4 linked regions of the Homo sapiens genome follow. The protein of the gene in region 1 interacts with the protein of each later gene in a pairwise test. Each region holds a gene or a part of one and is shown on either strand. Other genes may lie near its edges.

Region 1 (7,027 bases):
AAAAGTGCTGCTAGGTCTCAAAGTTCTTTATTTTTTTGAGACAGGGTCTCACTTTGTTGCCAAGGCTACAATGCAGTGGTGCAATCATGGTTCACTGCAGCCTCCACCTCCTGGGCTCAGGCAATCCTCCCAACCTCAGCCTCCTGAGTAGCTGGGGACACGGACACATACCAGCATGCCTAATTTTTAAAATGTTCTTGTAGAGACAAGATCTCCCCATGTTATCCAGTTGATCCTCCTGCTTCGGCCTCCCAAAGTGCTGGAATTACAGGCATGAGCCCTGTTCCTGGCCTAACGTTCTTTCATGTGATAAAGAAGCTCAACCAATCTGAGAGAATTACACTATAGTTTCTTCAAGTCTCTTAAGCCACATTATAGCAATAATCCACATCAGGCTAATATTTCTCCCTTGAATGAATAGAACTACTTGACTATTATATAAAAAAACAGGCTGGGCTTGGTAGCTCACGCCTGTAATCCTAGCACTTTGGGAGGCCGAGGTGGGTAGATTGCTTGAACCCAGGAATTTGAGACTGGCCTGGGCAACATGGCAAAACACTTCTCTACAAAAAACACAAAAATTAGCCGGGTGTAGTGGCATGTACGTGTAGTCCCAGCTACTCGGGAGGCTAAGGTGGGAGGATGGCTTGAGCCCGGAAGGTGGAGGCTGCAGTGAGCCAAGATTGTGCCACCGCACTCCAGCCTGGGTGACAGAGTGAGACCCTGTCTCAAAACAAACAAGCAGACAAACAAACAAACAAACTTATGGATGTATACTTCACATCCAAGGAATTAAAAAATAGGCTCAAATATTCTTAATGTTCTACAGGGTAAAAGAATAATAATATATTTGATTCATTTAAAGTGTTATTTGGGGGAAATGTAAATACATTAAAGTAAGGGAAGTTATATCAGACTTTCACTGTGAAGAACTGGAGTATCTCAGGAATCAGGACTTGACCTTTGGTACAACAATCATATTACAGCAGCATGGAACTACTAATTAGTTCAATTTATAGCTTAATAAACAGAATTGAAGCGTCAAAAATTTAAAACCTGCATATACAATGAAAAGGTAATTGCATTATTACTTACAAAAAAACACAACAAGAGTATTGGCAACCAATATGAAACTTGATGGGAAATAATCTCTTCCCTGGGAATATTTCCCATAATACCATAAAAGAAGCTGAGTGCTCCAGTGGCAACACTCACAAATCAATGTGTGATACTAAATGGCTAATGTTAAGTTATGTATAAAAATTTTATGTTTTATATCCATATATAGCATACACACACCAAGGTGCCTACATAAAATGCAAAAAAAAAAAATCCATTAAGCAAGTCTGCAAGAGGCATCAGCTGTGAGAATGCATTCAAATAAGCATTCAGCAATGTTACTGAATTATGCAAGTCAACAGGGTTACGAAGTGCAAAACTACTGAAGGGAAAAATGTTTTTTAATAAAGGTGCAGTTTTAAAAACCCTTAAAGTGTTTTGTCTTAACAGAAAACAACCAGAAAAGTTTCCACTCTTGATCCCTCCCCATGGTAATAAAAATTACTTACAGAAGTTTTTTTTTGTTTTTTTTTGTGGAGACAGAGTCTCACTCTGTTGCCCAGGCTGGAGTGCAGTGGCGCAATCTCGGCTCACTGCAACCTCTGCCTCTCAGGTTCAAGCAATTCTCTTGCCTCAGCCTCCCAAGAAGCTGGGACTACAGGCGTGTGCCGCCACGCCCAGCTAATTTTTTGTATTTTAGTAGAGACAGGGTTTCACTGTGTTACCCAGGCTGGTCTTGAACTCCTGAGCTCAGGCAATCCACCAGCCTCGGCCTCCCAAAGTGTTAGGATTACAGGCGTGAGCCACCACGCCTGGCCTAAATTATTTTTAAACATCCCATTATAATTTTCTTTCCAATCTCTAGCTTTCTAAATTTCTGTCAAATCCTGTTTCTACATTTCACATTTTTCTAAGCATTGGGTGCTCCTTAGGGATAAAACAAAGGGCCAGTAAGCCTAGAATACTTAAAGAAAAGGCATGATTTACATTTGGAAGAAATCTGAATTATACAGATATAGAGGGCTCTCCTCAAATTGTTCTTACTTCATTTTTTTTGCACCCAACTCAACTACCTGTCATTTTGTCCAGATTTTTGATCCTTGGAGGTTTGTACCAAAGTAAGGGTAAAATCAGAATTTTATTTTAACAGATTGCTTTACACAGGCAGTTTTTTTGTTTTTTGTTGTTTTTACTTTGTGCCTTTTTAGTAAATGTATGAGATTTGTAGAGTCAAAGAGCACCTGTAGTTTCACTAGTATAAGCCTTGCTATTATGTTCATCCCATCGACATACAAGTAGTTGTGGTACAAAGTATTCTCTTGTGCTATGGAGGTGTGTTAGGGCTGCAGAGAAAGATGAAGGGCAGAGTGAGAGAGGGCCAGGGGGAGGAAGCACCTAATTTAATCAAAGGAGGCCAACTTGATTGCTTTGAAAAAAGGGTATTGCTGTGAAAGCTTTGAACTGTCAGGAACATAGGTGGTCCTTTAATGTGATTATCACATTAATCACCTTTCTTGGAGTTTGAGTGTGGTTTATCTATAACGTGTAAGTTTATATCTTCATAGATCTTATTATCTACATTCCTTAAAATAAGGTATGTAACCCACTATCATTTCTTTTTTTTTTTTTTTGATCCACAAACATCAAAGCCATGGTGGCCTCAAAAGGCCAGTCTGGCTGCCCCAGCTGGTGATTCTATGTTTACTCATGAAGACTAAGGAAGGATCACTTTGGTTATATGATTTTGATTAAACAAACAAACAAACAAGCAAAAAAAACTCATGACACACCACTTTAAAATCCATACTATGTATAGATTTTATACAAATTATACTTAATCTAAACACAGAAATGTATACAGTCAAAGTAATTTTTCTCTAGTTTATGTAGCTTGTGCACAAACATAATTATAGCTTAAAAAAAGCAAAAAAATAAGAAAACAAACATATATATTAATTTGTTTTTAGATCATTTTAGAATATGTAATACCATGTTATAAAATGAAAGATGCTTTCTGAACACAGGTCAAAGAACTGAGAAAAACCTACTTTGATAGCATCTTTGGCATCTACCACAGCAAGATCTCGAAGGGCCCATGCAATCTGCCTTTTGTAGAAATCTCCCTTATCGGATTTCTTGACTTTGACCACCTTAACCTGCACAGGGCGTTCAGTTGTCACTGTTGAGTAAAACGCACACTTTTATTAGAAATATTACCCCTTTCACTCATTCTTCATTCACTCATTGCAAGTATAGCTTTCAGGTGCCTAGTAGCTGATACTAAAAGAGGTGTAATACTTTGCAACAAGTGCTATGACCGAGGAAAGCACAGAATCCTAATAGAAGCATCTAAGTCAGACTAGAAGATCAGAGGAGATTCCTTGAAAAATAAAGGAATGATATATTAATAATAAATTCAGACCAGTTTTAAAGAAAAGTATGAGGTAAAAATCTAAAGAATGATTGACATAAGTAAAGTCTGTGAGGCTTGAAAGAGCAAAATACCATTTCAAAGAGCAACAATACATTTATATATAAAGTTCTTACTATGTTGCCCAGGCTGGTCTTAATTAAACTCCTGGGCTCCAGCGATCTGCCCACCTCAGCTTCCCTAAGTGCTGGAATTACAGGCATGAGCCACTGCTCCTGGCCTAAGAATTTCTTTATAGCAATGCAAGAATGGCCTAATACAAATACATTACGATTGAGTGAGGTCATTCTAAAAAGTCAATTTATCATTTCAAAAACCAAGTACAATTATATACTACACTAACAAGGAAGAAAATTTTATGATATCAATGATATGAAAAAGCAGTTGATAAAATTCAACTCCCATTCATGATTTTTTAAAAAAGTGTAAGAAACCAGGAATAGAAGGGAACTTACTTAACACTGTAAAGTATAGCTATAAAAACCCTATACCAAATACCATGCTTGAAAATGAAGTCATTCTCCTTGAGATGGAGACTGTATTGATAGTCCTAACTAGGAAACTAAACCAACAAAAATAAAAGATATAAAAACTATAAAGGAAGGAAGAAAAATATCACTACTTTCAAAAAGTCTACATATAATTAGAATTAATAAGAAAGTTTGGCAAGATTGATAGACATCCATATAAAACACCAACAATTCATTGTAGAATTCTAACAATATATGATTTTAAAATGTATTAATGTTAATAAGCGCTTTCACGACTATCAAATAAAATCTAAGAATAAACCAATACTCAGGAGTAAATCCAAGAATATACATGACAAACCTTTAGAGAAAATGATGAAACTTATAAAGTTAAAAAACACCTAGATAAATAGAGAACTGTACCATGTTCATGGACACAAAGATTCAATACAATAAAAATGCAAGTTCTCTCCAAATTGAACTATAGGTTCAAAACAATTCCAATCAAAATCCCAACAAAGTCTGAAACTCGACAAGTTGTTTCTAAAATTTAGGTGGAATAAAGAACAAAAACAAAATAAAAATAACATATAAGATGACAACCAGAAATGCTCACACACACCATGACAGATGTCAACACAGGTGAACTAAGACTAAACTGTAAAAGGCAAAATTATAAAACTTTTGAATTTAGGAAAATATTTTTATGACTGCACAAAAGATACAGGGAAGGATCTTTTAAGACACCAAAAGGGAAAGCCATAAAGGATTAATTAATTTCATTTAGTTTAAATTATAAATTTCATTAACAGGCATCATAAAAAGTGAAAAGACAAGCCACTAACTGGGATGCATACAACCAACAAAAGGTTGATAACCAGATTATAGAAAGAACTTGTACAAATCAGTAAAAGGACAAGCAACACAACAGAAAAATGAGTAAAAGGCTTAAACAGGTAAATTTCATACACAACAGAATGAAATGACTAAGAAATTCATGAGAAGATGCTCAATCTCATCATTATAGGGAAATATAATTTAAAACCACAATGAGATACTATTTCACTGCCACCAGATTGACAACAATTAACAGCCTGTCAAAGCCAAGTGTTAACTAGGAATGTGTTGACCCAACAATTTTTCCAATTACAGAGACAATGAGGATATTCAAAACAAAGAGGAAATATCTTCTAAATAATAAAAGGATACAAAACAAGTACTCTTTCTTACTAAATACCCACCTGTGGCACATAAAAAACAGTTCTTTTTCTTTTTTCCTGCTTTGCAGACATTCACAATGCTCAGCAGGCGTTCATCATTTGGTGTAAAAATGTCTCTTTGTAATGCATGCTTGATTGCTGTCATCTTTTCTCAGCTGAAAAATGTGGAGTATAGATATTAAGCTCACCCTCAACATCATTCCATCTTATACTTCTGAATTTATGATTTGAAAATAATTTTTGGTTAACAAGCCTAGGAAAAATGATTTAATATATGAATACACCTATATCACAAAAATACAAAGCTGTAAGTTTGGAAATAAAATTAGAGAACCAGTGTTATCAAACTCTAAAATGTTTGGAAATGCTCACCAAGTATACACACACACACAAGATTTAAGAAAAAAATCTTCAACCCACTGCTCAAACTTTTAATATAGTTTTCTACATAAAGAACCCTTACAACAATAAGAAGACAAATAACCCCATTAAAAACTGAATAAAAGACCTGAACAGACATTTTTCCAAAGATATACAAATGGCCAATAAGCATATGAAAACATGCTTAACATCACTGGCCACTAGGGAAATGCAAATCAAAACCACAATGAGGTATCAACCACTTTACACCCATGAGGGTGGTTAAAATAAAAACGATAGAAAATAACAAGTGTTGGTGTAACAAGTGTTGGTGAAGATGAGAGGAAACAGAACTCTCATACATTGCTGGTGGGATTGTAAAATGGTGCAGCCACTTTGGAAAACAGCTTGGTGACTCCTCATAAAGTGAAACATGGGCTACCTTATAATCCAACAATTCCACTCCAGGAGAACTGAAAACATATGTCCACACAAAAATTTGTACATGAATGTTCATGGTAGCACTATTTGCAATAGCCAAAAAATGGAAATAACAGAAATGTCCATCAAATGATACATAAGCAAAATGTGGTATATCCATACAATGGATTATTATTCGGCTGCAAAAAAAACAAAGGGCCGGGCACGGGCGGTGGCTCACGCTTGTAATCCCAGCTCTTTGGGAGGCCGAGGCGGGCGGATCAAGAGGTCAGGAGATCGAGACCACGGTGAAACCCCGTCTCTACTAAAAATACAAAAAAATTAGCCGGGCATGGTGGTGGGTGCCTGTAGTCCCAGCTACTGGGAGAGGCTGAGGCAGGAGAATGGCATGAACTCGGGAGGCGGAGCTTGCAGTGAGCCGAGACTGCGCCACTGCACTACAGCCTGGGAGACAGAGCCAGACTCTGTCTCCAAAAAAAAAAAAAAAAAAAAAAAAAAAGAAAAAAAGGAAATGAAGTAATGAAACATGCTAAAATATTGATGAATCTTGAAAAGATTATGCTAAGTGAAAGGAGTCAGCCACAAAAGACCACGTATTGTATGATTCCATTTATATGAAATATCCAGAGTAGGAAAATCCATAGATACAGAAATATAAGTGGTTTTCGGGAGCTGGAAGGGAAGGTGGAAACGAGGATTGACTGTTAATGGGTATGGAGTTTCTTTTTTGGGGTGATGACAATGTCTTTCAACTAGATAGTAATGATGGTTATACAACCTTGTGAATATGCCAAAAATCACTCAATTATACAATTGAAAAGGGTAAATTTTATGATACATAATCTCAATAAAACTGTTATAAAAATAGGTTTCCACTTATCTCCTTTTTCTTATCTAACTCAGCATCTTTTCAAACATCAACTTAAAATAATTTTAAATCTCTATTTTATTTTTCATATACATATTTGTGTGGATATGTATTACAATTTTTCAATGCAAATGTGTAGTATTTCATACATGTGAGCTTGCCTAGGACACTAACTTCT
Region 2 (7,027 bases), on another chromosome or scaffold:
GGACACGAGAAACAATTATATTTTTGTGAATCAGTAACCTTTTTTCTCTTGAAGACAGGAGTGAATGTACAAAACATACTTCTGGGAATAATTTGGTTTCACCAGATACAGACTACAGAGCTGGTTCTTCGTTTGAACTCTCTCCATCTGATAGCTCTGATGGAACATACATGTGGGATGAAGAAGGCTTGGAACCCATTGGAAATGTCCATCCAGTTGGGAGCTATGAGTCCTCTGAAATGAACAGCATAGTATGTATGGATTTATATACTCTTGGAATATTTTGTTTACCCTACTATAGAGAGACTTGTGATATGATTGATTTTGTAAAAAATTTATGAATTAACTTTACTACTTTGAGAAATGGAAATTCATATTTGTTAAGAGCCTATAAAATATCTGACTCTAATATGAAATAAAGCATGGAGAATATATGACATTTGACTTAAATATACTCAACATGTTTACATATATATTCCTCATACATATGTGCATACTATATTAGTAGTTTAATCTATGCCAGTGGTTCTCAAAGACTGGGGGAGGAGGTCAATGACTGGAGGTGGTTTTGGTTGTCATATTGATGAGTGCTTCTTGGCATCTAGTGGGTAGATGCCAAGGATGTTGTTTAACATCCCACAGTCCACAAGACAGAGACCACAATGAATTATCTAGCCTAAGATGGCAGTACTGCTGCTGTTGAGAAACCTTGGCCTGTGCTATACTGAGGTAACATTGAAGTGCCAACTCTCAGTGGGATAATACAATACAAGTGTATTATTTTACTCTTAGAAAGTTTGTTGTGGGTCTGGACAGCTCTCTAGGGCAGCTGTCTTTAGTGATCTAAACTACTTTGATTTTGGGGCTTGACCATCTTTTGAGGTCCCTTCTTTTCACTATGGCAGAGGAAGAGAGTGCCAGAGGGTCTCACACATATAATTACTTGCATTGGCCTGCAGGCAACACTTGGCACTTCCGTTCATGATCTGTTGACCAGAACTAATCATGTGGTCCCATCTGAGTACTAAAGGGACAGGAAGTGTAATCTTTGTGTGTGCCTGGAAGGCAAGGGAATCAGCTATGGGCAAGTGTTAGAAGACCTGCCATGAATTTATATGTGCATATTTTAAGAAACATGGCAAGTAATGTGGATAATATGCCATATGGGTAAAGTGTAATTGGTATGTTTAAAGTGACTCATTGCAGTTATTCAGTATATAAAATACGATTTTCCAGTAGTTGTATGGGAAAATTGGTAGTCTGTGGATATATTAAATTCCAAGTGGATTTCAGGCAATGTAATTTTCTATACTCCTATAAACCTTTTACTTAAGCCATTGTTAACGGAGGCTTAAATTGCACAAACATTTTTTTTAACCGTTGTCAACACCTTGCATACAAACATTTAATTTAGAGACAGTGTCTTCATCTCATTAGATAAAGGAGGCTCAGAAAAGATAACAGTTTAAGACCTTATATGCTGTCTTACTAGGAGTTTTAAGGCAAATATGATTGAAGTGCAAATGAAAAAGGTGTCCAGCAGATGGCAGCAATAAACCACTTAGTACCTGACAGTTTTTGGAGGCTAACCACCTTGATTCAGTTCATTGTTCCTGTAACTAATCACAAAATAGCTTTCTGTCAAAGATTTCAGAATGCATCTGGATTAACTGTTAGTCCTTAAGATCCATGAGTTTCCTCCTTGTTCAGTAGGTTTATGTCTATTGGTATGGGAAGAAAAAAACATCCATTCTGTGCTTTGGAACAAGATGGTGTTTCTGTCTTTCTCTTCTGATCTAAGGAGAAGATGACAAAGTCTGAGAAAGAATAGAGAGTTGATGGCAAAAGTTGAGAACCATGTGTTGAGTTCTCGTACAGTGATGTAGGATTTACCATTTTTGCTCTGAAGTTACGTGAATTTTTTGTTTTGTATAAATTTTAGGCGTGTACCTGTTCAGAATTGTTGGTTTGTTTTTTTTTTTTTTTTGGTGAATTGGACTTTCCATCATTACTTAGTGATCTTCTCTATCTCTAACTATGCTTTTTGTTTTCACACTCCTTTTTTTCCAAATATTAATATACCTTACCAGTTTTATTTATATATTTTCTCTTCTTTTACTATCAGCCTTTTTTATGTATAGCAAATAGTTTATTATTTTAAAATTTTCAGTTTGTCTTTTTCTTTTGACTAGTGAGTTTAATCCTTTTATGTTTGTATTGTTATACTTGGACTGTATTTACTCTGCCATCTTATTATTTTTATTTAAATTGTCTTGCTTTTTTTTTCTGTTTCTTTTTCTTTTTTTTTTTTCCTACAGTGGTTCAAAGTAGTATCTCTTACTTAACCCCTCAAGACCTTTAGCATATTCTCACTTTTCTTGTCTCTGCAACACTGCTTCTACCAGTCCAGGTAAAGATAAGGAGCTTTCACTAGAATGTACATCAACTGTGTCACTTCTAACACAGTTTAGTTCCACCCACTGTTCATTTCTGCTGACATTGTTTTTGTAGTAAGTCTTCCTTTTTGAAAGAAACAATGTGTTGATATACATTCTGATGCAATCTCCTAATCATGTCAAGGATCCCAACAAATAGTTTGTAGACTGATTACTTTTCATAACACCAGTCTAGAATCCTGGCTATTTATTTGTTTACATGCTACCAGTATTATGCAGAGGTCTGATTTACGTACAGTAAAATGCACAAATCTTCTGCAGACAGACCAGAGAATTTTGATAAATTTGTATGCTTGTTTGACAATCATCCATATTAAGATATAGAATACTCCCATCGCTCCAGAGTGTTCCCTTTCTGTTCCTTTCAGTCAGTCATTCTCTTACTCTGCAATCACTGTTGGTTTCGGTCACTATAAATTAGCTTTGACTGTTCTTGAACTTTATATAAATGAAATCATAAAGGTGCTGGTTTATATCTAGCTTCTTTTCATTAATATTATGTATTTGTCAGTTGTAGTTTCTTTACTCTTGTATCATATTCCTTTGTGTGAATATACTACAACTTATCTTATTGTTCATGGGCATTTAGGTTGGTTCCAGTTTCTGGCTATTAGAGTATTGCATGATTGTGAAGATTTTGATATATGTTTTTTTGGTGAACACTTATTCATTTTTGTTGGGAAAATGTGTAGGAGAGAGATTCCTGGGTTATAGGCTATGCTGATGGATAAAGATGCTGTCAGTGTTTCAAAGTGATTGTGCCTGTTTACACTCCCCACTGGCAGTAAATGAACATTCCGGAAAATTCACCTTCTTGTCTATTCTTGGTGCTTTCTGCCTTTTTGCATTTTTGCTATTTTGTGGGTATAGTAGTATTGCATTGAGATTTTGTCTTGTATTTTTTGATAACTACTCACAGAGCACCTTCACATATGTTTATTGGGCCATTAGGATATATCCTCTTCTGTGAAGTGTCTTGTGTTGGGTTTGTTTTCTTAATGATTTGTAAAAATTCTTCATATTTTTTGACATAAATATTTATTTTATATCAATATGTAGATGTTTGTATTCATGTGTATATTTACATTTTATATATGTAGAGTGTATTCTTTACTGTGAGTTGCTTTTGAAATCTCTTAGTGTCTGTTGATATAGAACTTACCAATTTTGATATTGTCCAGTTTTACAAGTTTTCCCTTTACCGTTACCACTTTTTAAAAAACTGTTTGTGAAGTCTTTTCCCACCTTAATATCATGAATATATGTTTCAATGTTTTGCTCTAAAAGCATTATTTATTTTTAACCTTTTACCTGTAGGTCTCTAGTCCCCATCTGGAAATTATTTTTCTGTATGGTGTGAGATAGATGTCACGATTAATTTATTTTAGTCATCTTTCCCCCACTGTACTTCAGGGTCATCTTTGTCATAAATCAGTGACTGCATATATAAATATTTCATTGCATAGACAAATATTTCTGTTTATTTTGTCAGTTATATGTTATTTTCATTATCGTAGCTTTAAAATAAATTTTGCTGCCTGGTAGGGTAAGTCTTCCAGCTTTGTTCTTTTCCAAGATTTCTGTAGCACTTCTTAACCTTTTGTATTTCCAATTAAATATTAGAATGAGCTTGTCCGTTTCCAGGAAGGACCTGCAGGGATTTTGAATGGGATTGCATTGAATTTATAGATGATTTTGGAGAGAATTGACATATTTATGATGGAGATATAGTCCTCCATTAATTTCAGACTTTAGAAATACTTCTTGCTAATGTTTTGTACTTTTCTATAAAATGTTATGCATGTTTGATTTTGACACTGTAAGTGGTACCATTTTTATAATTTTATGAGTTTTTGTTGTATATACAAATATACCTGATTTTTATCATGTATATTGGACTTTTCTAATAACCTTGTAAATTCATCTACTAGTTATAATAATTTGCCTTTGGATGATTTTGGAACTTGTATATACATTCTATAATCATACCATTTGCAAAAAAGTTGCCTCACCACCCCAGCGCTTGCCCTATTACACAAGTTAGGACCACCAACGTGATGTTGAATTGAAATGGTGATAGAATTTCAGAGAGAAAGCCTTAATAGTTCACCATTAAAGTTTTTGGGAGTTGAGAGGGAGTTTAATCAGAGTATGGAAATTCTCTTTTATTTTGTTTGCTGAATTTTTGTTGTGAATGAATATTAAGTTTTACCAAATGCTTTCTCTACGTCTGTTGAGATAATGAAGTTTTTTTTGTGTTAGTGTGGTAGATTGCATGGCTTGATTTTCAAATAGTAAACTACCTTTCCATTCTTAGAATACATTCACTTGGTCGTGATGTATTATCTTTTCAAATGTTGTTAAACTAGATTTTCTAATTTTTATATTTTAAAATTATTTTTTAAAATTAAATTTTTTTTTTTTTTTTTTTGAGACGAAGTCTCGCTCTTCTCACCCAGGCTGGAGTGCGATGGCGCAATCTTGGCTCACTGCAACCTCTGCCTCCCAGGTTCAAGCGTTTCTTCTGCCTCAGCCTCCCGAGTAGCTGGGATTACAGGCGCCTGCCATCACGCCTGGCTAAATTTTGTATTTTTAGTAGAGACAGGGTTTCACCATGTTGGCCAGGCTGGTCTCGAACTCCTGACCTCAGGTGATCCACCCGCCTTGGCCTCCCAAAATAGTGGGATTACAGGCATGTGCCACCGCGCCCGGCCTAAAAATTAATTTTTAGAAAAGAGATAGGGTCTGTCTCTTTTTGTCCAGTCTGGCCTTGAACTCCTGGGCTGAAGTAATCCTCCTCCCACAGTCTCCCAAGTAGCTGGGACTACAGGTGCATGCCACTATACCCAGCTCTGCTAATAGTCTATGTTTTTGCATGTATGTTCATGAGTAAGATTGTTCTACTCTGTAATTTTCTTGTTTTTCTACTTGTTCTTGCCATGTTTTGGTATCAAGATCATGCTGGCTTTATAATGAGTTGAGAAGTGTTTCTTATTTTTCTGTCCTTTGAAAGAATTTGTGTACAACTAATGTGCTTATTCCTTAGGTATGTAAAAGAATTTGCCAGAATTCAGCCTTCTGGACCTGGAGTTTTCTTTATGAGAAGGTTTTTAATAACAGTTTTAATTTTTAGATATTGGCATATTAAAATTTGTATGTATATTCGTGTTGGTTTTTGAAAATTTGTCCATTTCATCTAAACTTGTCATTTGTTGGTGAAAGTTGTTTAGGATTATCCTCTTTTTAACATCTTATAGGGACGTCTGCTTTTCATTCCTAATACTGGTTATTGGTGTTTCCTCTCTTTTTCTTCATTTCCAAGAACCAAATTTGGGCTTTGCTGATTTTTCTATATTGTGCTTATTTTCTGTTTTTATTGATTTTGGTTTATATCTTTATTTCCTTTCTTCTACTTTTCTTTAGTTTAATTTGTTTTTTCTTTTCCAAAGTTTTTGACATGGAAACTAGATAATTGATTTTTAGCCTTTCTCCCTTCTCTGGCATATGAATGAATTCTCATAAAGAGAAGCCTTTATTATTTGGGAAAGAATGCATTCAGTAAACACCCTAGTAGTAAATATAGCAGTTAGTTCTTTTTATGTGCGTTGTTTTAAAATTGTGAATTCTAAGGCATGTTGTATAGGCCATTATCCTTAATGCATTTATATATCCATGAACAATATACAGTATGATTTTGTACGTATTTTACAACTTAGGTAAGTGATATGTAATATTCTACAGGTTTCTTTTTTAACTCAATTTTATGTTTTTTGTGTATATGTGTATTTGTATTGTAGTTCTAATTCATATTTATTACTTTATAATATTCTGTCATTTGAATATACCTGTATTTTTCTCTGTTCCCCTGCTAATCTACATTTCAGTTATTCTTTATTGCTAATAATAATGTCTACATGGTGTAGCAGTGAACATTCGGATTCAATTCTCTTTGATCATATAAGTCAGTTTCTTTAGGATATAAACCTAGCTATAGCGTTCCTAGGATATAAAACTAGGAATAGTGTATTTTCAACTTTAATGATATTATCAAACTTCTCCCTAAAATGGTCCTACCAGTGTATACCTTCCAGTAGAGGATGAGAATTTCTGTCACTTATCATCTGAACCCCATATGTCGTCATCTGACTTCAACATTTTAATCAGTCTGGTGAGTGTGAGATGATACATAATTTTAATTTACATTTATACTATTATTGATTTTGTCATTTTTTTCACACATTTTACTGGCAGTTTTGTTTCCTTTTATGTAAATTTTTACTTCAGTGATTTTTCAGTTGGGTTTTGCCATTTTTCTTATTGATATGGAAGAGTTTTTTATGTGGTTGGAATTTAATTCTTGTTAAATGTGTTGCAGTAATCTTCTCTGAGCCTGTTGCTTCTGTTTTGTTTTTTGTATCTTTTTACCGTTCATAGTTTTTGCTTTTGACAATTAAATCTAGTAATGTTTTACTTCATTGTTTTTGCTTCACATGCTCATATATGGCGTGTGTGTGTAAGACACCCATTCCCATCCTAAGGCCATAGAGGTATTTTGTTTACAGAGAGATGTT
Region 3 (7,682 bases), on another chromosome or scaffold:
TGCGTCCCCGAAAGTTCATGTGTTAGAAACTTGATCCCCAGTGAGAAGGTGTCAGGAGTTGGGACCTTTAAGAAGTGTTTAGGTCACAGGGGCACCACCTTCATGGATGGATTAATGCCATTACCATGGGAATAGGTTTCTTATCGCGGGAGTGGGTTTCTTATAAAAGGAGAAGTTCAGCTCCCTCTTGCCCTCTATCTTGCCCTCTCTCTGCCCTTCCACCATGGGATGATGCAACAAGAAGGCCCTCACCAGATGCCAGTGTCTTGATTTGGGCCTTCCCAGCCTCCAGAACCATGAGCCAATATATTTCTGTTTCTTATAAATTATCCAGTCTGTGGTATTCTGTTATAGCAGCAAAAACGGACTATGACAGGGTGACTTCTTTCAGTTTTAGTAGGCTGTAGAATTTGTTTCACATTATTTTCACCTGCAAGGTTGTAGAAAGCAGTCCAATGCCAATCTGATTCTTTTTTCTTTACAATTAAGTTGTTCTTTCTTTCTGGGAGCTTGTAAAATGATCTTTTTTTTTTCTTCTGAGTTAAGAATTGTGTCTGTATATAACTGGGTCTTTTTTCATTAATGTCATCTATAATTCTAAAATCCTTTCAATCTGTAATTTTATATATTTTTTTGGTTCAGAGAAATGTTTTCCAACTATGGTTTTCCCTCCACCTGTGTTATTTCCTCATTCTGAGATTCCTATTATTCACAAGTTAGGTCTTCTGGATTTATCCTCTAGCTCTCTTACCTCCATATAGGATTCATTAAATCTTCATTTTCTCCGATTCTCCAGTCTACCCTTCCCAAAGCATCAGTAATATATTACTTACAATAAGAAATACTACAGAATTTGAATATGGCCATCTTCCAGTAGTACTAAATGGGAAAAAGCTCATAATTCACTATAATAATCAAATAATTTAAATTACCAAAGGATATCAACAATAAATGTTATTAAAGAATAGTACAAAATTATAAGTATAAAATTGAATATTAGTAGACTAAATGGGGTAAATTATTCCATAAAAGAAGTTTCTTCAGAATTTCTATTGAGAATAGAAACATCACATTTATCACTTTTCAAGTGATGTACTTTTACAAACCACATGCAGCAAGACCCTTATTCAAATACCTTAATAAAATATTTTTATATACATGTCAGATAATCTTAAAATGTTAGAGCCTAAGATCAGCTCCTTTCACTGATTTCCACCCCCCTCCCACAACTAAGGATAGACTACTCTAGGAGAGAATGTGGAAAGAAAAACCTTTCTTCTCTGTGTTCATTCTTTAGACTCACAGAGACTGTTTTGTTAATAATCAAGCATTGTAGTCAAAAGCAAATAGGAAAGCAACTCAATTTTTCATTGAAAAACATTTATCAAAAAAAGAAAAACATTTATCTTTTTTTAAAAATGCAAAAGCTGTTGTTGCACTTTAAATGTAATTGCTCTCATTGCTAAAGAACATAATTTGGGTGAATAGTAAGTTTCAAAGGATAATTAGGCACTTTACACAAAAGAGAACATCTGCAATCATCCCAGGAATGATGAAATTACAGGGCTATCAATCCTTGTGCTTCAGGGCATGGACTGATCACCAGCTGGAAGACAGAAGATATCCCCTCAATAGTATAATATTTCTATAATATTACCAATTACATTTCAATTTTTATTCCCTTTTAAACATAAGTCATTGGGGGGCTATAAAGCACATTATGGCCAAACAGTGCAACATGAGGGGAAAATCTTCAAAGGCCTTCAAGAATATTTTAAAGAAATGGATTCAAAGAAAAATAGTAAACTTTTGGCTGGGAGCGCTGGCTCATGCGTGTAATCCCAGCACTTCGGGAGGCTGAGGCAGGTGGATCACTTGAGGTCAGGAGTTTGAGACCAGTCTGGCCAACATAGTGAAACCCTGTCTCTACTAAAAAAAAAAAATGTAAAAATTAGCCAGGCATGGTGGTGCACACCTGTAGTCCCAACTACTCAGGAGGCTGAGGCACGAGAAACACTTAAACCTGGGAGGTGGAGGTTGCAGTGGGCCAAGATTGTGCCACTGCACTCCAGCCTGGGGAACACAGCAAGACTCCAGTCTCAAAAAAAAAAAAGGAAAAAAAAAGTAAACTTTCAGAGAAGGTGAGCAGAATATCATAGAAGTTAACAAAGAACATTTTGGGTACTTATCACATTCAGAGCTTGAAGAGAGTAGAACTCAGCACTTGTTGAATGAATGAATGAATGAATGAATGAACAAAGGAACAAACTTATATGTGTCCGGGTTCCAATCCCAGCCTCACCATATTTGACCTTGAGTACTTAAGTGTCTTTGCTTATCTTCAGTTTATTTATCTGTAAAATGGGAATAATTGTGCCTACCTCTTCTTGTAATTACAGGGATTTAACCAAGTAATGTATACAAATAAATAAATCCCCTGTTTGGAACAGGGTGAACTCTCAACAAATGAGTCATTTTAAGAGCTCTCCTAGGATTGACTGATTTAGCTAATTCCTAAACAAACAGATCTAACAATGAAATCATCTCAAGCGACTTCATAATAGACCAAATCTTTCTATATTGACTATATTATAAACCTGTGTTGTTCTTTTTGCGAACCCAACACTGCATTACACCATGAGACATCCTCTAAAATTCTTCTTTACTTTGAACTAAGCATAAACTTTCTGCTAATAAGATCTCTTAGATGATATACTATTATAAGCAGAGTTCAAACTCATACAAAGTGTAACAGCTGCTCACCTTGCTGGTCCAAGATATTGTGACTTGTGGTCAAATGCATACAAAAGCCATAAAAGGACACTCCTTTCTAATATTTTCTCAATAATTAACTTTCATTACAATTCAATTAATACTATATTGAATATAATTATTAGTAATTTCTCTTGGGACCTATAAATTAAGTGTATCCTGCAAGTGCAGCTAATGTCCCAACCATACCTGAAGAAATTTTATCTATGTCTGTAAACAGAGTGCATATACCTTTGGATGCTCTGGTCTCAACTAGTTGAAAGCCAGCTTAAAAATAAATCACGTCACATTTATGATTAACATGGCTTTAAATAACAATGGGGACTTTATTCCCCCACACAATGATCAACTACTGTTCTCACTGCAACTAAAGATGTTGAAAAGATAACCTAGTTTATTGGACAATTTCTACAAGGGCAGTGTAATAAAATGTCCATTTTTTTTCTGGACAATAAAGTACTTTTAAATTATCAACATAGCTGCATATAATCAAGTTATCTCCTGTCTGGAAGGTGGAAAATTGGAATATTTCTAGAACTTGCAAAGAGTTTTTGTCCTTTACTTCATGAATCATTCAGCAAAAGCCGGCTATGTACTATTTCAAATGTTACTACCTCAGAATGTCACTTGACTCAAAGATTTTCCTTTCCTTTTCTTCTTCCTCCCTCCCTTTCTTCCCTTCCTTCCGCCTTTCCTTTCCCCCCCCCTTCCTTCCTCCCTCTCTCCCTCTTTCCCTTCTTCCCTCCCTCCCTCCCTCCTTGTACAGGGACTAACACTAGAATCACCGCCTCACCATGCCCCTCGTTGGAAGAAACAGAAAGGCACACGATGCTGTAAGCTATGGCAGATGCCCAGGGCACGTGGGGTTGAATAATGCTGTTTGGAGTGAAACACTGAGACTCCGCAGTCACACAGTGATTCATTTACAGAGCTTTACTAAACTACGGGCACTCAGAAATAGACAAACTGTTCTTGCCTCAACCGAACCAAAGGCCCAGCGGGCCTCGAAAAAGCTCAGCCAGGTGCTTTGGGAGGCCGCGAGGAGGAAGAAGGATCCGTGGAAGGAAGCACGTTCACACCACGGCACTGAGGCCTCTGGGCCGAGCTATAATTTAAAGCATGAAACGAAGGGGTCATAGATTCTGACTAATGCTGACCATTTCCATCGGTTACCCAGTTGAATCTCATGTCGACACTAGGAAATCGACTTTATACATGCTCTTTAGGAAACGAGGGACGCAGGATGAAAGAAGCCAAGAGTGTCGCCAGGGCTTGCGCCAGCGCCGTCAGACTCCCGGGATGGGGGAGCTCCAGGGCACGGCGTCAGCGGATTCACGGAGAAGGAGAAAAGCCCCACTGCCGTGCAGAAGCCTAGGCCCGGGTGAGACGCCTGCGAAGGCTGCCAGCAGCGGAAGAGAAGGGGCGTCCTCCGTGCTGCGCAGCACTCGCCCGCGGTAGGTGGGCGCGGAGCTCAGAGCTGGGAGCCAAACGCAAACGCTGGCGAGAAGCCCCAGCCCCCTCCGGCAGCCCACTCGCTGCGGGGAGGGGTTTCTCACGCCCCCAGCTCCTGGGAGACTGCACCGGAGGTCGGAAGTAAGCCGGGCGAGGATGAATCATCCCGCCTAACTCCTCCTTCCCGGTCCCCTAGCCTCCGCACGCCGGCCCCCTTCAGAGATCTTGCAGCCGCGAGCGAAGACTGCCCTATCCTCAGACTCTACCGAACCCCCTGTGGCCTGCGGAGACGAGGAGACGGACGGGTCTGGTGGCCAATGAGAGCTTCGATCTCTTGCCCCCCGCCCAATGGGCCGCTGCTCATGGGCCGGGGCGGGACTAGGAGGGCAGGTAGGGGCGGTCCGGGCTGGCGCGCGGCGCGGCGGCTACGCGGCTGCGGCTCACAGAGCTAGCGCCTCTCTGGGTGTCCGTGCCAGTGCTGCGCGGGAAGGCACCACCACCACAGCCGCCGCCGCTGGCCAGGGTGCTGGACAAGACGGGCCCGTCGGCCACCTCGCCAGCTCAGGCACCCGCTGCAGCCGTCGCTGTCTCCTCCCAGACCGGTCCCCATGGAGGAGATGGAAGAGGAGTTGAAATGCCCCGTGTGCGGCTCCTTCTATCGGGAGCCCATCATCCTGCCCTGCTCTCACAATTTGTGTCAGGCGTGCGCCCGCAACATCCTGGTGCAGACCCCAGAGTCTGAATCCCCCCAGAGCCATCGGGCCGCGGGCTCCGGGGTCTCCGACTATGACTATCTGGACCTGGACAAGATGAGCCTATACAGCGAGGCGGACAGCGGCTATGGCTCCTACGGGGGGTTCGCCAGCGCCCCCACTACCCCGTGCCAGAAGTCCCCCAACGGCGTCCGCGTGTTTCCCCCGGCTATGCCGCCACCGGCCACCCACTTGTCACCGGCCCTGGCCCCGGTGCCCCGCAACTCCTGTATCACCTGCCCCCAGTGTCACCGCAGCCTCATCCTGGATGACCGGGGGCTCCGCGGCTTCCCCAAGAATCGCGTACTGGAAGGGGTAATTGACCGCTACCAGCAGAGCAAAGCCGCGGCCCTCAAGTGCCAGCTCTGCGAGAAGGCGCCCAAGGAAGCCACCGTCATGTGCGAACAGTGCGATGTCTTCTACTGCGATCCGTGCCGCCTGCGCTGCCACCCGCCCCGGGGGCCCCTAGCCAAGCACCGCCTGGTGCCCCCGGCCCAGGGTCGTGTGAGCCGGAGGCTGAGCCCACGCAAGGTCTCCACCTGCACAGACCACGAGCTGGAGAACCACAGCATGTACTGCGTGCAATGCAAGATGCCCGTGTGCTACCAGTGCTTGGAGGAGGGCAAACACTCCAGCCACGAAGTCAAGGCTCTGGGGGCCATGTGGAAACTACATAAGGTGAGTCCTAAGAAAACCCACTCCTAACTCCCTGCGTCTCCGATCATCCGGTTTTGCAGCAGACGGTCCCCGTCTCTTGCGCACAGCGCATCCCAGTGGGGGCGCAATGCAGGTGCCTTCGATGTTTACCTCCCTGGTCTGGTGCATTGCAGGAGGCATGGGGGAATCTTAACCGGCGCACGGGGGAGTTGAATGCCCCCACAGAGTTGTTGCGGGGATGCCTTAGAGCGGGTCTCTCGGGGCGCGCTGCCTGCGAGCGGGACTCAGGGCGCCCCCTTTCCGCGGCGGGTCTGCAGCCAGTGGCCGCGGCCAGTGTGTGGGAAAGCACTGCATAGCTGGGTAGAGCCGCGCCAGTGCCCAGGGCCGCTAGGCACGCTCGAGGGCAGGGCGGGCTGCGAACCCTCGGGGAGGGACTGGGATGGGGGCGGTGGGGTCGCGCGGACGGCGGGAGTCTGTCGCTGCTGGATAGGCGGACCTGGTGAGGCACGGCGGAGGGTCGGGGAGACGCCGCAGGCGGAATACTGATGAGCCCGGCTCTGGGCCAGACCTGGCTCTCGAGCTGGAGAGAACGCGGGGTCCTGGTGCCACGTGCTCAAAAGACAGAGCGGAGAGGGCAGCCAGCGGTCGCCATGGCAACGCGACGTGCAGGCTTGGGCCTGAACCCTTCCGGAGTTGGGACCTGAGACTAGAGTGTCAGGACCGGAGTTTGCGCAGTCGCGGCCTGGAAGCCAGACAGGTGCATCTCCTAGGGAAACCTTCTCCTCCCAACTATACACACACCCACTTCTCCGGAATTCAAGCCCTTTCCTCTTTCAGTAGTTATATGTGCAAACTTTGGGACACCTGTTACCAGATTTATCTTTCCAGTCTCTTTTGATGATATTTCCACCATGGCTAGACACGAAGAGGCTTTAGCAACATATTCTGTCGTGCCACTCCTCTGCTCAAAACCCTCCAATTTTTCCCACGCTTCTCAGCCTGTCCTACATGACCTCTTCCATTTTGGCCCCTTCGACCTCATTGCCTCCCACTTACTCCCTCTGCTCCAGCCACACTGCTTCTTACTGTTCCTCAAACGACGCCAGGCACCTCCCTACTCCAGGGCCTTTGCATTTGGTGTTCATTCAGCCTGAAGCTCTCTTCCCCAGTTACCTGAGATCCGAATGGGTCACTTACCTGCATCCTTCAGCTCTTTGCTCAGGTATCATCTTTGCAGCGCCACCCACCCAGACACCCGCTAGTTCCCTCTCAGCTTTATTTTCCTCAGTAGTATTTATCCCTGTGTGGCATGCTATATATTTTAATTATGTTATTTTTTGTATTTATCTATTGCTCCCTGTACACACACAGACATAAACGAAATAAGCCTCATGAGGAAGAAGATCCTTATAATATGCCCACACTGCTTAGAAGGAAGGGAGCAACTCTTGAGGAGATGTGCATGAATTTGCTTTTCATTTTTTAAATGATCCATTTAGTTGGGGCTGTGGAGTGCAGGGCAGGGATTCAGGATGGTTGGAAGGAGCTTTTCTTTACATCACTGAGTTGCATACCCAAGGATGAGATGGAGCAGTGAAGATAGTGTCCAGGCCTCAGCTGTGGCCTTGCTCAGAGTCTCCCAGAATTCCTTGGAGACTAGAAAGGGTAGCTTTTGCAAGTGGCCAACTGTGGAGTTAAGGCTGGAACATTGATATTTTGTTTACAGCAAGAAAAAAATGTCATTAATTTTCAGCAATCAGTGAAAGTTTTCTCAACTCCTTAACCCGGTTGAATGTGATCCATGTTTACAGTCATTCTATTCTCACATATAACCTATTAAATCATATTAGTACTGATGGGGATTTCATTTAGCACAAATTGAAGCCTAACTGGGCACACACCACTGTTTTCAGAACAGTCGAATTTAAATTTTTGAAAATGACATTTAATTTTGAAAGTTTTCAAAACTTGAGTTCACAGCTAGTTTTTTATTCATATTTTGATTTCACTTTTAAACTGCTAATTATAGTCCATGTTGAATTGCCCTAC
Region 4 (7,027 bases), on another chromosome or scaffold:
CCGCATGCTACCATGCCCGGCTAATTTTTGTATGTTTTGGTAGAGACAGGGCTTTGCCATGTTGGTCAGGCTGGGTCTCAAACTCCCGGCTTCAAGTGATCTGCTCACCTCGGCCTCCCAAACTGTTGGACTGTGCCTTGCCATAATCTTTTCTTTGTTATATGATTCCTTTAGTAATTGAGCATAGATTCTTTGTCTTTTCTAGTGTTTGGTATGATAATTTTGATCTTCAGGTAGGTGGTAGACATCATGTCTGTGTATCATTGTTAGTAGACAAGTACGTACTTTAATAAAAATGCATCTGTTTTTAATTAACAGAGAATTCTTGAATTGGAAAGTTCTTTGGAAAAAAGCTTACAAGAAAACAAAAATCAGTCAAAAGATTTGGCTGTTCATCTGGAAGCTGAAAAAAATAAGCACAATAAGGAGATTACAGTCATGGTTGAAAAACACAAGACAGAATTGGAAAGCCTTAAGCATCAGCAGGATGCCCTTTGGACTGAAAAACTCCAAGTCTTAAAGCAACAATATCAGACTGAAATGGAAAAACTTAGGGAAAAGTGTGAACAAGAAAAAGAAACATTGTTGAAAGACAAAGAGATTATCTTCCAGGCCCACATAGAAGAAATGAATGAAAAGACTTTAGAAAAGCTTGATGTGAAGCAAACAGAACTAGAATCATTATCTTCTGAACTGTCAGAAGTATTAAAAGCCCGTCACAAACTAGAAGAGGAACTTTCTGTTCTGAAAGATCAAACAGATAAAATGAAGCAGGAATTAGAGGCCAAGATGGATGAACAGAAAAATCATCACCAGCAGCAAGTTGACAGTATCATTAAAGAACACGAGGTATCTATCCAGAGGACTGAGAAGGCATTAAAAGATCAAATTAATCAACTTGAGCTTCTCTTGAAGGAAAGGGACAAGCATTTGAAAGAGCATCAGGCTCATGTAGAAAATTTAGAGGCAGATATTAAAAGGTCTGAAGGGGAACTCCAGCAGGCATCTGCTAAGCTGGACGTTTTTCAGTCTTACCAGAGTGCCACACATGAGCAGACAAAAGCATATGAGGAACAGTTGGCCCAATTGCAGCAGAAGTTGTTGGATTTGGAAACAGAAAGAATTCTTCTTACCAAACAGGTTGCTGAAGTTGAAGCACAAAAGAAAGATGTTTGTACTGAGTTAGATGCTCACAAAATCCAGGTGCAGGACTTAATGCAGCAACTTGAAAAACAAAATAGTGAAATGGAGCAAAAAGTAAAATCTTTAACCCAAGTCTATGAGTCCAAACTTGAAGATGGTAACAAAGAACAGGAACAGACAAAGCAAATCTTGGTGGAAAAGGAAAATATGATTTTACAAATGAGAGAAGGACAGAAGAAAGAAATTGAGATACTCACACAGAAATTGTCAGCCAAGGAGGACAGTATTCATATTTTGAATGAGGAATATGAAACCAAATTTAAAAACCAAGAAAAAAAGATGGAAAAAGTTAAGCAGAAAGCAAAGGAGATGCAAGAAACGTTAAAGAAAAAATTACTGGATCAGGAAGCCAAACTTAAGAAAGAGCTTGAAAATACTGCTCTAGAGCTTAGTCAGAAAGAAAAACAGTTTAATGCCAAAATGCTGGAAATGGCACAGGCTAACTCAGCTGGAATCAGTGATGCAGTGTCAAGACTGGAAACAAACCAAAAAGAACAAATAGAAAGTCTTACTGAGGTTCATCGACGAGAACTCAATGATGTCATATCAATCTGGGAAAAGAAACTTAATCAGCAAGCTGAAGAACTTCAGGAAATACATGAAATCCAATTACAGGAAAAAGAACAAGAGGTAGCAGAACTGAAACAAAAGATCCTCCTATTTGGGTGTGAAAAAGAAGAGATGAACAAGGAAATAACATGGCTGAAGGAAGAAGGTGTTAAGCAGGATACAACATTAAATGAATTACAGGAACAGTTAAAGCAGAAGTCTGCCCATGTGAATTCTCTTGCACAAGATGAAACTAAACTGAAAGCTCATCTTGAAAAGCTAGAGGTTGACTTGAATAAGTCTCTGAAGGAAAATACTTTTCTTCAAGAGCAGCTAGTTGAACTGAAGATGCTGGCAGAAGAAGATAAGCGGAAGGTTTCTGAGTTGACTAGCAAGTTGAAAACCACAGATGAAGAATTCCAGAGTTTGAAATCTTCACATGAAAAAAGTAACAAAAGCCTAGAGGACAAGAGCTTGGAATTTAAAAAACTGTCTGAGGAACTAGCGATTCAGCTAGATATTTGCTGTAAGAAAACCGAAGCCTTATTAGAAGCTAAAACAAATGAGCTAATCAACATTAGTAGTAGTAAAACTAATGCCATTCTTTCTAGGATTTCTCATTGTCAGCACCGTACAACTAAAGTTAAGGAGGCACTGTTAATTAAAACTTGCACAGTTTCTGAATTAGAAGCACAACTTAGACAGTTGACAGAGGAGCAAAATACACTAAATATTTCTTTTCAACAGGCTACTCATCAGTTAGAAGAAAAAGAAAATCAAATTAAGAGCATGAAGGCTGATATTGAAAGTCTTGTAACAGAAAAAGAAGCCTTACAGAAGGAAGGAGGCAATCAGCAACAGGCTGCTTCTGAAAAGGAGTCTTGTATAACACAGTTGAAGAAAGAGTTATCTGAAAACATCAATGCTGTCACATTGATGAAAGAAGAGCTTAAAGAAAAAAAAGTTGAGATTAGCAGTCTTAGTAAACAACTAACTGATTTGAATGTTCAGCTTCAAAATAGCATCAGCCTATCCGAAAAAGAAGCAGCCATTTCATCACTAAGAAAGCAGTATGATGAAGAAAAATGTGAATTGCTGGATCAGGTGCAAGATTTATCTTTTAAAGTTGACACTCTGAGTAAAGAGAAAATTTCTGCTCTTGAGCAGGTAGATGACTGGTCCAATAAATTCTCAGAATGGAAGAAGAAAGCACAGTCAAGATTTACACAGCATCAAAACACTGTTAAAGAATTGCAGATCCAGCTTGAGTTAAAATCAAAGGAAGCTTATGAAAAGGATGAGCAGATAAATTTATTGAAGGAAGAGCTTGATCAGCAAAATAAAAGATTTGATTGTTTAAAGGGTGAAATGGAAGACGACAAGAGCAAGATGGAGAAAAAGGAGTCTAATTTAGAAACAGAGTTAAAGTCTCAAACAGCAAGAATTATGGAATTAGAGGACCATATTACCCAGAAAACTATTGAAATAGAGTCCTTAAATGAAGTTCTTAAAAATTACAATCAACAAAAGGATATTGAACACAAAGAATTGGTTCAGAAACTTCAACATTTTCAAGAGTTAGGAGAAGAAAAGGACAACAGGGTTAAAGAAGCTGAAGAAAAAATCTTAACACTTGAAAACCAAGTTTATTCCATGAAAGCTGAACTTGAAACTAAGAAGAAAGAATTAGAACATGTGAATTTAAGTGTGAAAAGCAAAGAGGAGGAGTTAAAGGCATTGGAAGATAGGCTTGAGTCAGAAAGTGCTGCAAAATTAGCAGAGTTGAAGAGAAAAGCTGAACAAAAAATTGCTGCCATTAAGAAGCAGTTGTTATCTCAAATGGAAGAGAAAGAAGAACAGTATAAAAAAGGTACAGAAAGCCATTTGAGTGAGCTAAATACAAAATTGCAGGAAAGAGAAAGGGAAGTTCACATCTTGGAAGAAAAACTTAAGTCAGTGGAAAGTTCACAGTCAGAAACATTAATTGTACCCAGATCAGCAAAAAATGTGGCAGCATATACTGAACAAGAAGAAGCAGATTCCCAAGGCTGTGTGCAGAAGACATATGAAGAAAAAATCAGTGTTTTACAAAGAAACTTAACTGAAAAAGAAAAGCTATTGCAGAGGGTAGGGCAGGAAAAAGAAGAGACAGTTTCTTCTCATTTTGAAATGCGATGCCAATACCAGGAGCGCTTAATAAAGCTAGAACATGCTGAGGCAAAGCAACATGAAGATCAAAGTATGATAGGTCATCTTCAAGAGGAGCTTGAAGAAAAAAACAAGAAATATTCCTTGATAGTAGCCCAGCATGTGGAAAAAGAAGGAGGTAAAAATAACATACAGGCAAAGCAAAACTTGGAAAATGTGTTTGACGACGTCCAGAAAACCCTCCAGGAGAAGGAACTAACCTGTCAGATTTTGGAGCAAAAGATAAAAGAGCTGGATTCCTGCTTAGTAAGACAGAAAGAAGTACATAGAGTTGAAATGGAAGAGTTGACCTCAAAATATGAAAAATTACAGGCTTTACAACAGATGGATGGAAGAAATAAACCCACAGAACTTTTGGAAGAAAACACTGAAGAAAAGTCCAAATCACATTTGGTCCAACCCAAATTGCTTAGTAACATGGAAGCCCAGCACAATGATCTGGAGTTTAAATTAGCCGGGGCAGAACGGGAGAAACAGAAACTGGGCAAGGAGATTGTTAGATTGCAGAAAGACCTTCGAATGTTGAGAAAGGAGCATCAGCAAGAATTGGAAATACTAAAGAAAGAATATGATCAAGAAAGGGAAGAGAAAATCAAGTAAGTTTTATTTCAGCTTGAATATTTTTATGGCAGTCCTTCTTAATTAAGTCTCCTTTTTTTGTGCCTAATACAGTTATTTTAAATTATTTGGATAAGTTTCACCAACCCAAAATATTAAACATAAATCCAATATGTTAAATATGAGGAGAAATAAAAACAATTTAGGGCAAGTGGCAGTGTTATTCCATGTCCATTTAGGAGAGAAAAACCTTTTCTTGCATATAAGATTCTGGTTATTAGGGACATATCCAAGTAATTATTTTCTTTTTGTTTTGTTGTTTTTAGTATTAGCATTATTATTATATAACATAGATGTGTTTTGAAAAAAAAATTAAAGTGGAAAACAAAAATTCTCTGGTCCCCAGGACCACTACTTAGAGGTAATCATAGTTGATATGTACCTGGACACACACACACACACACACACACACACACACACACTCACTCTCACACTCTCTCTCTCTCTCTCTCTCAAAAATGTTTTCATACAATGAACTCATACTGTATGCACTGTTTTAAAGACCAGGTAGCTCCTTGCAGCTTGTTCTTTGTGTGGCAGCAGTTAACGGTACATTTTTATTACTCAGACAGGAGCAGGAAGATCTTGAACTGAAGCACAATTCCACATTAAAACAGCTGATGAGGGAGTTTAATACACAGCTGGCACAAAAGGAACAAGAGCTGGAAATGACCATAAAAGAAACTATCAGTAAGTAAAATTAAGTTCCATAAGGAACAATTATATCAGCAGAGGCTATAATTTAAGCTTATCATTTTTGCAGTGGTGGTAAGTGCATTAAGTCATTAAACTGGGGAAGAAATAATCCTTGCCCAATAACATTCTCTAATGGGAACCTGCCCTGCTTGGCAATGACTTACCTTAAGGAGAGAGGGAGCAGGTAAAACAATCTGAAAGTATTAGCTAATTAATTACCTTGTAAAGACACTTTTGCTCAGGGAGAGGATACATTTGATCACTGTTGAGCTAGATGTCTCATTAAACATCTTAAAATGCTTATATAAAATTAAATTTCATCAAAATTAATTGGAATGAGAGTTGTTACTGAAATTGAGATACAAATATTAACTCTTGACTAATGTGTTTTCTTGTGTGTGTTCATTTTTATTTATTAGATAAGGCCCAGGAGGTGGAGGCTGAACTTTTAGAAAGCCATCAAGAAGAGACAAATCAGTTACTTAAAAAAATTGCTGAGAAAGATGATGATCTAAAACGAACAGCCAAAAGATATGAAGAAATCCTTGATGTTTGTACCTTATTTCTTCTCTCTCACTTTTGAAATTTAGCTGTAATAGATTTCATGGTAGTGCCAAAGATTTCCTTTTCAAATGTGTTTTTTGAACGAAAAGGGTTTTTTTTTTTGACTCAATATTATTCAAATTAGTACTGTTATATGCAGATTTATAAAGTTGAGTTGATTTCTGCCAGGATTGTAGTTTCCTGATGAGATTCTGCTAACTAGGCAGCACAGTCCCCTTGCTAGTATTGAAGCAACAGTAGATACTAAAAGGAAGAATAGATTCTTTCCCATCTGCCTCACAGATTCTGACTGAACTGTGAGGGGAACCAGACTAAGAATCAAGACCCTGTGCTTCGGTGAAGTCTAAGTAATGGGATAGTGAGTGTGTATTTAAATGTGGCTGCTTAACTTAGCTGGAATCTTTCTGGGAGGGACAATCAACTTTACTCTTATCTCTACCCAGTGTGTGGAGGTTGATTGGTCTCAAGAGAAGAAAGCTGGGAAAAAATGGAATGCATAAGCCAAATCTTTTATATTTAGTGGAAGGTTATTTCAAAATACTTACTCTACTAATGCCATGTTGCAATTCACAGAATATGCCACTAATGCATTGCCATTAGCAAAATAAGATAAGCCATGAAGATACACCATGAAGATAAATCATAAATGCTAGTTAGTACTTTGGACTAACATTTGAAAATGTTTTCAAATGTAATACAATATAAATTGTTCTTGGTTGGGTTACAGATTCTGTAGTTGCTCTAAGCCTTATTTCACTATATGCTAAGAATCTTTTGGTGATTAAGAATTCATAAATCAAAGAATCATACCTCAGCTGACTATGTCAGCAGAAGTCTGAGTCGGGAACAGATTCTAATAATTATTTTAAATGTAATTGAAATGGCTAGAATTCCAAGATATAACACATGCCTATAAATGCCACCTTTTATAATTCTTGAGCTTTATATGTCATTATGAAAAGATTTAAATAATTTCACATTTTCTTATACTTCCATAGAGGATATATGTGCTAAATGAAAAAAAAAAAGTATTATTTCTTGAATGCCTAGAGAGTGTTGGAAGATACAGTAAAGCTAGTTTAGTTCTACTTTTTTTTTTTCTGTTTTTGTTTTTCAGAAGGAAAAGCCAGTTCAGTGTAGTTAAGTAATTTCCCTAAAACTACATAGTGGTAGAGCAGTGATTCTTCAT

The links.
Region 2: the proteins of EXOC1 (region 1) and CCSER2 interact in a two-hybrid assay, tested with the Homo sapiens proteins (2 studies listed by BioGRID and IntAct).
Region 3: the proteins of EXOC1 (region 1) and TRIM9 interact in a two-hybrid assay, tested with the Homo sapiens proteins (2 studies listed by BioGRID and IntAct).
Region 4: the proteins of EXOC1 (region 1) and GOLGA4 interact in binary tests that used the Homo sapiens proteins (3 or more experiments, as listed by UniProt).

The regions. Positions count from the first base shown.
Region 1 is NC_000004.12:55,856,622-55,863,648, reverse strand, and holds part of EXOC1 (exocyst complex component 1), read right to left. Parts: intron 5,336-7,027; 5' UTR 5,326-5,335; coding exon 5,202-5,325; intron 3,239-5,201; coding exon 3,108-3,238; intron 1-3,107.
Region 2 is NC_000010.11:84,373,565-84,380,591, forward strand, and holds part of CCSER2 (serine-rich coiled-coil domain-containing protein 2), read left to right. Parts: intron 1-54; coding exon 55-251; coding exon of another isoform or gene 252-341; exon of another isoform or gene 342-437; intron 438-7,027. UniProt on the Homo sapiens protein: Microtubule-binding protein which might play a role in microtubule bundling.
Region 3 is NC_000014.9:51,092,090-51,099,771, reverse strand, and holds the start of TRIM9 (E3 ubiquitin-protein ligase TRIM9), read left to right. Parts: upstream 1-4,666; 5' UTR 4,667-4,832; coding exon 4,833-5,654; intron 5,655-7,682. UniProt on the Homo sapiens protein: E3 ubiquitin-protein ligase which ubiquitinates itself in cooperation with an E2 enzyme UBE2D2/UBC4 and serves as a targeting signal for proteasomal degradation.
Region 4 is NC_000003.12:37,323,270-37,330,296, forward strand, and holds part of GOLGA4 (golgin subfamily A member 4), read left to right. Parts: intron 1-318; coding exon 319-4,556; intron 4,557-5,146; coding exon 5,147-5,268; intron 5,269-5,693; coding exon 5,694-5,824; intron 5,825-7,027. UniProt on the Homo sapiens protein: Involved in vesicular trafficking at the Golgi apparatus level. May play a role in delivery of transport vesicles containing GPI-linked proteins from the trans-Golgi network through its interaction with MACF1. Involved in endosome-to-Golgi trafficking.